Linked DNA regions of Homo sapiens: region 1 is linked to region 2. A link means that fine-mapping ties the variant in region 2 to the expression of a gene that starts in the linked region. Tissue or cell type: whole blood. Region 2 holds a variant in brackets; the other region holds the start of a gene. All regions are shown on one strand. Distances are between the middles of the regions.

Region 1 (5,000 bases), 53 kb before region 2:
GTTCTAGAGCTCTGGGCCCTTCGATCTTCATCTTGAAAATGACAGCCTGAAAGGACTTTTTACGGCCCCCTTCAGCTTTAAGCTGGTCCTGACCTAATCACATGTTTCAAGTTCTAACTGAAAATTACGAGAAGGAAATTAGGAAAGATGTATCAAAGTCCATGTTTATCCTGGATTAACTTTGTCACCATTGTGCTGCTGTGGAGGCAAACCTGTTGCATCACATGGAATACCCTATTTCTGGCTGTGCATTAGAAATACAAGAGGCAGCCGACTGGCTTTTTATATTTTCATTTTTTAAAAAAGTAAACAATAGTATCCCTCGATGATGGGAAGTTCTCAGGTTTCACCTTTATAGTCTGAAAGTACACACAGAATGCCACCTGGCAGACAAGGGCCACACAGCTGAACCCGGGGTATGCTGGCTAGCTTTACCACGCGTGAAGACTCACTTTAAAGCCACGTCCCCAATCCTTACCAGGGGGCTGATCAGTGCCGTCGCTGTTACTGGTGGGGCGATTAACCGTGTAGCGGCCAGAGAATGAGGTTTGCGTATTACCTGCCCATGTATTTATACCCACCTCGTGTGGCTTGTGGTCACCAGAGCAAGAGCATGCAAATTAAAAGCAACGAGATTTGACCTTAGATCTTACTGGACACATCTACTACTATATTGGAAACAGGAAAAGAAAGAGCTTTTGACACAGCACCTGGTGGAAGGGGCAAACCTCCATCTCCCCATACATTGCATTGTTGCAGTCTTCAGAGTTTCAAAGGCTTGCCGTTTCTCCCTGAAAAACACGGCCGGTCGGGAGGGATTTCTGGCGCGGCCCACTCACCTCTTTGATCTTTGCCCTTTTCTCGCGGATGGCGGCGTCGGCGGGCTCCCGGCTCTCCACCCCGATTGGGGGCACGAAGTCCACCGGGGGCAGGCCTCTGAACGGCGCCTTGTCACGCAGCTGGTCCTGGGCCACCTTCTTCTTCTCCAGTAGGATGTCTCTTTGGATCTCCTCGGGCAGCTTCTGCAGGGTCTCCTTGGCTTCCCTGAGAGCCCGCTCGTGGTTTTCGCGGATCCTGGCCAAGTTGTCCTCCAGGGCGGCCTCCGGGTCCCCGGGTGCCCCCTCCTCGCGGCGCCGGGCTCGCCCCTCGGCCGCGTCCTCGGCGCGCGCCCCGGGCCCGGGCTTGTGGTCGGCGGCCGGCTGCAAGGCGGGGCTGGAGTGGAACAGGACCCCGCTGAGCAGCTTGGAGGAGTCTGGCAGGAAGAAGATCGCCCCGAAGCAGAGCGTGATGAAGGCGCTGAATACCAGCAGCAGCACGAACTTCTCCGTCAGGCGGAGGGCGGCGGGGCCCGACCCCTTCCTGCCACCGCCGCCGCCGAGCCCCCCGCCCAGGACGCCGCCCGCGGGGCTGCTGAAGAGCGGCAACAGGCCCCCCACGGGCATCGCTCCCGCTGTCCAGTGGTCCGGCGCCGCGCCGCTCAGCAGCCAAACTTCGCCGCCGCTGGGAGTCCGCGGCTGCGGGGCTGGGTCCTGCGTAGCCAGGCCGCCCGACCCCCTCGGCTGGGCTGCGGATCCTCCCTGGGGGAACAACTCCGCGCCGGGTCTTCTCCCCGGGGCGGCTCCTCGGGCACACAGGCACGCGCGACAGACCGCTGGCTGCAGCCCCTGCGGGGAGAGAAACAGTAAAACGTAGTAATTACGGCGATGATAAAGTTTCCAGCGGGTCTCCGCCCTCCGACTCCTGGCGAGCCTCCAGGACCGCTCCCCTTAAGCAGAGTCCTGTCCAGTCCGGGCACCGCCCTCGCAGCCCACTCTCTGGACTTGGGGTGAAGTTATCAGGTCCCGTGGGTAGGGGAGGGGTGTCCCGCGCAGGAAGGGGTCAGGGCAGCGCGCGAGCACCTCGGGGAGGGGCAGCGCACCTCTGGGCAGGAGGGGCGCAGCGTGGGCGGGAGACTCGTCAACTTCGCCCGCTCCCCATCTCCGCGCTGAGACTGCTGCCTCTTTCCTAGGCTGGGCTGAGCGCGCTGTCCCACGGTCCCGCAGCCCCGGCGCGGCTCAGGTGGGCGAGCGCGCCGACCTGCGGGCGAATGGCAGCGAGTAGAGCAGCACGGTACACTCCGCCGCGGCCCCGCGAGCACTAATCTCACTGCCGGTCTTGGGGCGGTGGAAAGCGAGGGAGGCGACGCGGCCGGAGAGTGACGGCGCGGCCGGGCCAATCACGCGCCGCCCAGGGTCCCGCGGGGGCGGGGCCGAGGCGAGGAGGGGGATGCGCGGGGCGGGGAGTTTACGGGAAGCGCAGCCTCGGCGGGGCCCGGCCGGCGGCGGGGAGGTCGCGGGGCCGGGAGGCGCGAGGTAGGCGGGAGCCGCGGTGAGGAGGACGGTCGAACCCGTGGCTGAGGCCCAGCGCCGAGAAGCGGCAGGCAGAGTTCGGGGTCGGGGAGTTTATCCTGCGCTGGCCTCGGCAGGGGTCCCCGGGGTGGTTGATCCTCGACTGGCCCGGGAGGCGCCTGGGTCCGCGCGGGACCTCTCTGCCTCCTCCTCCGACCCGTGCGGGGCGGTCGGGGGCGCTCCCGAGGGGGTCCCGGGAAAGGCGGGGTCTGGCAGGGGGTCCTGGGCGCTGGGTCGTTCAGAAGCACGGCTTTACTCCAGTTACCCTCTTTTTATCCAAGGCCGGGGTTCCCCGGGTGCCTGGTAGCAGTGAAACCCCAAGTCCCTCGGTTAGGGGAGCCGTGACCCTGGGAGCTTTTGAGCTCTCTGGTATAACATCCTTTTACATCCTAAGAGACACAGTTCTGTGCTTGCTTAGGACTTTTTTCGTATGCGCCCTTTCTTCCCCCAAAAAACAAAAAACCGAAAAAACTTGTATGTCTCTCCCGCCCACCCGTACTTTCACTATTCATTTACCTCATAGAAGTTGGTCAAATTTTCCATTCGAAGACGAGTTTTATGCTGCGGTAGCTTCAAGCAATAAGTCGAACACTGTGTTGAAATTAAGTCTTGGATCCGACTACTTCCAGCGAAGTGAGGAGTTGGTCCAATAGAAATTATTTTCCAAAATGTGTTGTAATTCTCCTGTTGCTCCACAAATAAGGGGTTATCAGAGAGGAAAACGTTGACTGACTTCGCATTTCTGAAAGCTGGTTTGTAGTCGCCTTATTTCATCCTTACCCTTCTCTGGAAATGTGACATTAGTTCTGTTTGTGCTTAAGACAAAGGAAACAGCTGGCACCTTTCGGGAAGGTGGCTCCAGTACAGTTGTTTCCAGGTGTTAAGCTGTATGAGAAAGTAGAAAAGTAATCAGAAATCCTTACTAGTTTTCATTTAATCATTTAATTATTAATTTTAACCATCATTATTTGTCGTCTACTTGTTTTGTGTAAAATGAGTAATACACTCAAAGTTCTTGTTAATAGGAAATTATTGTTTGATAAAGCTGGCTTTATGGCTTGGTTATTTTGATACCTGCTATGAAATTCTATGTCCAGAAGAGTGCAGCATATCCAAGCAGGGTAATAAGTTCAGAAGGACTGAAAAAGAAAACAAAGATGATTTTTCTTTAATGATGGAAAGGCAATTTTTATTTCAAACGATTATGCATTTGTAGGTTGTGCATAGGCTGAAAGGTTTGAATCACTGTGAAATAATGTTTCTAACAACATCCTTAAAACTGAGTTACCTCTTGAATGGATAGATAAATAGGAACTGGGTTAACTACCCCAAACGCTAATCTCTTTATGATCATCCTTTTTTGGAATGATTTATTATTTTAAAAATTATGTTGTAAGAATGGAATTATAGCCCCGGAAATATTTAGAAGCTTTATTTCAAATTAATGTTATTAAGTATTCCAGCAAAACAATAAATTCCACTTTTAAGTATATGTTAAAATGGTGATAAATAAAAGTTATAACTTAATTCTATTTCTGACACTTTAATTTTGATACCAAATCAGTTTGGGCATTTAACTTCTGTAGTGGAAATATTAAAAATTTAGTACGTGGGTTTAAGGATTTTTTCCCCTAAAAACTTTAAATTTATCTATGTTGTTTCTACATCTTTTAAAGTAACTATTCTTTTTAAGTTCATCATGAAGCTTATTTTAAGATTTTTTTCTTATTTTCCGTATTTCTTAAATGACAGGGTTATACTTGCAGCCTGGCTTTGATAATATGTTAAACAAGAAGTTAACATGGGTGGTTGATTATAGGTACATATTAAAGGGTGTCTGTGTACATTAGGTGGGATAAGAACTATATAGGAACACCAATATTTGGGCCAGAGCAAATTTGAAAAATTCACAAAGAAGGTATCTGAAGAGGCATAGCAATCGAATTATGCATCCTCTTTAAAATAATCACATGAAGCCCTGTGTGCTCATGGTAAGGGAGGAGTAGAAAATAGTCAACAAGTAAAATTGTGCATTTTGTAGAAGCAAAATCGGACACTTTCCTCTGATTTCAGTACTACAAAGCACTTGACATTCTACCATTGAAAAAAGTACTTTGTACCCTGAGATAAAAATAAAGGTGATTGGTTCTTGTCTTTTAAGTAATGAAACCTTGACTTTGTCCCCTAAGTCAAGACTCCCTAGCCACATCTACCTGAAGGTAATGTCACCATCTTTATGAATGCAATGATAGTGCTGAAATTGCTGTTTCTCATTATGGATGGTCTAATGTAAACCTAAGAACCTTAGTAATTTTGTGGGATTTTTAAAAAAATACTTGCTATGTTTTTTTATTTGGCCAGCCAGTCCTTTTGAAGTATAACTCTCTTGTAATTTTTGCAGGTTTGCTTGCAAACTTAATTCTTACATTTTCCTTTTTCAATACTTAATGTTTTTGTGTATTTCTTTGATAATTTGTAAATTTTTGTGTTTCAAGATTATATCTTTGAATCAAGTAATTTTTTAAAAACCTGATCATCAGTGATACCACAAAACACTACAAAGAAATCCCCAAATAAATGTTGTTGCTTAGATTTTTCTACTTTCAAAAGAAA
Region 2 (5,519 bases):
AAGCACAAGGGGTCAGGGAATTCCCTTTCCTAGTCAAAGAAAGGGGTGACAGATGGCACCTGGAAAATTGGGTCACTCCCACCCTAATACTGCGCTTTTCCAATGGTCTTAGCAAACGGCACACCAGGAGATTATATCCCGTGCATGGCTCGGAGGGTCCTACGCCCATGGAGCCTCGCTCATTGCTAGCACAGCAGTCTGAGATCAAACTGCAAGGCGGCAGCGAGGCTGGGGGAGGGGCGCCCGCCATTGCCAAGGCTTGAGTAGGTAAACAAAGCAGCCGGGGAGCTCGAACTGGGTGGAGCTCACCGCAGCTCAAGGAGGCCTGCCTGCCTCTGTAGACTCCACCTCTGGGGGCAGGGCATTGCCAAACAAAAGGCAGCAGAATCCTCTGCAGACTTAAATGTCCCTGTCTGACAGCTTTGAAGAGAGTAGTGGTTCTCCCAGCAGGCAGCTGGAGATCTGAGAACGGACAGACAGCCTCCTCAAGTGGGTCCCTGACCCCCGAATAGCCTAACTGGGAGGCACCCCCCAGTAGGGGCAGACTGACACATCACACTGCCGGGTCCTCCTCTGAGGCAAAACTTCCAGAGGAATGATCAGACAGCAACATTTGCTGTTCACTAATATCCGCTGTTCTGCAGCCTCCGCTGCTGATACCCAGGCCAACAGGGTCTGGAGTAGACCTCCAGCAAACTCCAACAGACCTGTAGCTGAGGGTCCTGACTGTTAGAAGGAAAACTAACAAACAGAAAGGACATCCACACCAAAACCCCATCTGTACGTCACCATCATCAAAGACCACAGGTAGATAAAACCACAAAGATGGGGAAAAAACAGAGGAGAAAAACTGGAAACTGAAAATCAGAGTGCCTCTCTTCCTCCAAAGAAACGCAGCTCCTCACTAGCAACAGAACAAAGTTGGATGGAGAATGACTTTGACGAGTTGAGAGAAAAAGGCTTCAGAAGATCAAACTACTCCGAGCTAAAGGAGGAAGTCTGAACCCATGGCAAAGAAGTTAAAAACCTTGGAAAAAATTTAGATGAATGGCTAACTAGAATAACCAATGCAGAGAAGTCCTTAAAGGACCTGATGGAGCTGAAAACCAAGGCACGAGAACTATGTGACAAATGCACGAGCCTCAGTAGCCGATTTGATCAATTGGAAGAAAGAGTATCAGTGATGGAAGATCAAATGAATGAAATGAAGCAAGAAGAGAAGTTTAGAGAAAAAAGAATAAAAAGAAGCAAACAAAGCCTCCAAGAAATATGGGACTATGTGAAAAGACCAAATCTACGTCTGATTGGTGTACCTGAAAGTGATGGGGAGAATGGAACCAAGTTGGAAAACACTCTGCAGAATATTATCCAGGAGAACTTCCCCAATCTAGCAAGGCAGGCCAACATTCAAATTCGGGAAATACAGAGAATGCCACAAAGATACTCCTCGAGAAGAGCAACTCCAAGACACATAATTGTCAGATACACCAAAGTTGAAATGAAGGAAAAAATGTTACAGGCAATCAGAGAGAAAGGTCAGGTTACCCACAAAGGGAAGCCCATCAGACCAACAGCGGATCTCTCGGCAGAAACTCTACAAGCCAGAAGAGAGTGGGGGCCAATATTTAACATTCTTAAAGAAAAGAATTTTCAACCCAGAATTTCATATCCAGCCAAACTAAGCTTCATAAGTGAAGGAGAAATAAAATCCTTTACAGACAAGCAAATGCTGGGAGATTTTGTCACCACCAGGCCTGCCCTAAAAGAGCTCCTGAAGGAAGCACTAAACATGGAAAGGAACAACTGGTACTAGCCACTGCAAAAACATGCCTAATTGTAAAGACCATTGAGACTAGGAAGAAACTGCATCAACTAACGAGCAAAATAACCAGCTAACATCATAATGACAGGATCAAATTCACACATAACAATATTAACCTTAAATGTAAATGGGCTAAATGCTCCAATTAAAAGACACAGACTGGCAAATTGGATAAAGAGTCAAGACCCATCAGTGTGCTGTATTCAGGAGACCCATCTCATGTGCAGAGACACACATAGGCTCAAAATAAAGGGATGGAGGAAGATCTGCCAAGCAAATGGAAAACAAAAAAAGGCAGGGGTTGCAATCCTAGTCTCTGATAAAACAGACTTTGAACCAACAAAGATCAAAAGAGACAAAGAAGGCCATTACATAATGGTAAAGGGATCAATTCAACAAGAAGAGCTAACTATCCTAAATATATATGCACCCAATACAGGAGCACCCAGATTCATAAAGAAAGTCCTTAGAGAACTACAAAGAGACTTAGACTCCCACACAATAATAATGGGAGAGTTTAACACCCCACTGTCAACATTAGACAGATCAATGAGACGGAAAGTTAACAAGGATATCCAGGAATTGGACTCAGCTCTGCAACAAGTGGACCTAATAGACATATACAGAACTCTCCACTCCAAATCAACAGAATATACATTCTTCTCAGCACCACACTGCACTTATTCCAAAATTGATCACATAGTTGGAAGTAAAGCACTCCTCAGCAAATATAAAAGAACAGAAACTATAACAAACTGTCTCTCAGACCAAAGTAGAACTCAGGATTAAGAAACTCACTCAAAACCGCTCAACTGCCTGGAAACTGAACAACCTGCTCCTGAATGACTACTGGGTACATAATGAAATGAAGGCAGAAATAAAGATGTTCTTTGAAACCAACAAGAACAAAGACACAACATACCAGAATCTCTGGGACACATTCAAAGCAGTGT[G/A]TAGAGGGAAATTTATAGCACTAAATGCCCACAAGAGAAAGCAGGAAAGTTCTAAAATTGACACCCTAACATCATAATTAAAAGAACTAGAAAAGCAAGAGCAAACACATGCAAAAGCTAGCAGAAGGCAAGAAATAACTTAAGATCAGAGCAGAACTGAAGGAAATAGAGACACAAAAAACCCTTCGAAAAAATCAATGAATCCAGGAGCTGGTTTTTTGAAAAGATCAACAAAATTGATAGACTGCTAGCAAGCCTAATAAAGAAAAATTAAGGGAGAAGAATCAAATAGACACAATAAAAAATGATAAAGGAGATATCACCACCGATCTCCAAGAAGTACAAACTACCATCAGAGAATACTATAAACACCTATACGCAAAGAAACTAGAAAATCTAGAAGAAAGGGATAAATTCCTCGACACATACACCCTCCCAAGACTAAACCAGGAAGAAGCTGAATCTCTGAATAGACCAATAACAGGCTCTGAAATTGAGGCAATAATTAATAGCTTACCAACCAAAAAAAGTCCAGGACCAGATGGATTCACAGCCGAATTCTACCAGAGGTACAAGGAGGAGCTGGTACGATTCCTTCTGAAACTATTCCAATCAACAGAAAAAGAGGGAATCCTCCCTAACTCATTTTATGAGGCCAGCATCATCCTGATACCAAAGCCTGGCAGAGACACAACCAAAAAAGAGAATTTTAGACCAATACCCCTGACGAACATCAGTGCAAAAATCCTCAATAAAATACTGGCAAACCGAATCCAGCAGCACATCAAAAACTTATCCACCATGATCAAGTGGGCTTCATCCCTGGGATGCAAGGCTGGTTCAACATATGCAAATCAATAAACATGATCCAGCATATAAACTGAACCAACTACAAAAACCATATGATTATCTCATTAGATGCAGAAAAGGCCTTTGACAAAATTCAACAAACCTTCATGCTAAAAACTCTCAATAAATTAGGTACTGATGGGACATATCTCAAAATAATAAGAGCTATCTATGACAAACCCACAGCCAATATCATATTGAATGAGCAAAAACTGGAAGCATTCCCTTTGAAAACTGGCACAAGACAGGGATGCCCTCTCTCACCACTCCTATTCAACACAGTGTTGGAAGTTCTGGCTGGGGCAATCAGGCAGGAGAAGGAAATAAAGGGTATTCAATTAGGAAAAGAGGAAGGCAAATTGTCCCTGTTTGCAGATGACATGTTTGTATATTTAGAAAACCCCATCGTCTCAGCCCAAAATCTCCTTAAGCTGATAGGCAACTTCAGCAAAGTCTCAGGATACAAAATCAATGTGCAAAAATCACAAGCATTCTTATACACCAACAACAGACAAACAGAGAGCCAAATCATGAGTGAACTCCCATTCACAATTGCTTCAAAGAGAATAAAATACCTAGGAATCCAACTTACAAGGGACATGAAGGACCTCTTCAAGGGGAACTGCAAACCACTGCTCAATGAAATAAAAGAGGATACAAACAAATGGAAGAACATTCCATGCTCATGGGTAGGAAGAATCAACATTGTGAAAATGGCCATACTGCCCAAGGTAATTTATAGATTCAATGCCATCCCCATCAAGCTACCAATGACTTTCTTCACAGAATTGGAAAAAAACTACTTTCAAGTTCATATGGAACCAAAAAAGAGCCTGCATCACCAAGTCAATCCTAAGCCAAAAGAACAAAGCTGGAGGCATCACGCTACCTGACTTCAAACTATACTACAAGGCTACAGTAACCAAAACAGCATGGTACTGGTACCAAAACAGAGATATAGATCAATGGAACAGAACAGAGCCCTCAGTAATAATGCTGCATATCTACAACCATCTTATCTTTGACAAACCTGACAAAAACAAGAAATGGGGAAAGGATTCCCTATTTAATAAATGGTGCTGGGAAAACTGGCTAGCCATATGTAGAATGCTGAAACTGGATCCCTTCCTTACACCTTACACAAAAGTTAATTCAAGATGGATTAAAGACTTACATGTTAGACTGAAAACCATAAAAACCCTAGAAGAAAACCTAGGCAATACCATTCAGGAAACAGGCATGGGCAAGGACTTCATGTCTTTGCCCAAACACCAAAAGCAATGGCAACAAAAGCCAAAATTGACAAATGGGATCTAATTAAACTAAGGAGCTTCTGCACAGCAAAAGAAACTACCATCAGAGTGAACAGGCAACCCACAAAATGGGAGAAAATTTTTGCAATCTACTCATCTACAGAATCTACAATGAACTCCAACAAATTTACAAGAAAAAAACAACCCCATCAACAAGTGGGCGAAGGGTATGAACAGACACTTCTCAAAAGAAGACATTTATGCAGCCAAAACACACATGAAAAAATGCTCATCATCACTGGCCATCAGAGAATGCAAATCAAAACCACAATGAGATACCATCTCACACCAGTTAGAATGGCAATCATTAAAAATTCAGGAAACAACAGGTGCTGGAGAGGATGTGGAGAAATAGGAACACTTTTACACTGGTGGTGGGACTGTAAACGAGTTCAACCATGGTGGAAGTCAGTGTGGCAATTCCTCAGGGATCTAGAACTAGTAATACCATTTTACCCAGCCATTCCATTACTGGGTATATACCCAAAGGATTATAAATCATGCTGCTATAAAGACACATGCACAGGTATGTTTATTGCAGTTCTATTCACAATAGCAAAGACTTGGAACCAACCCAAATGT

The links.
Region 1: MAN1A1 starts here. The variant in region 2 is fine-mapped to the expression of MAN1A1 in whole blood (TOPMed, PIP above 0.99).

What each region holds. Positions count from the first base shown.
Region 1 is chr6:119,347,624-119,352,623 of GRCh38, forward strand. It overlaps MAN1A1 (mannosidase alpha class 1A member 1), which reads right to left and starts at 2,138. Exons shown (of 13, transcript NM_005907.4): 1 at 1,919-2,138; 2 at 840-1,664. The coding sequence starts at 1,442. RefSeq lists an enhancer at 609-958 and silencers at 1,169-1,288, 1,349-1,548, 2,059-2,698.
Region 2 is chr6:119,400,185-119,405,703 of GRCh38, forward strand. No RefSeq gene overlaps it. Among named protein-coding and RNA genes, the nearest start is that of MAN1A1, 53 kb to the left of the region's middle. The variant G/A (reference allele first, on the strand shown) is at 2,776.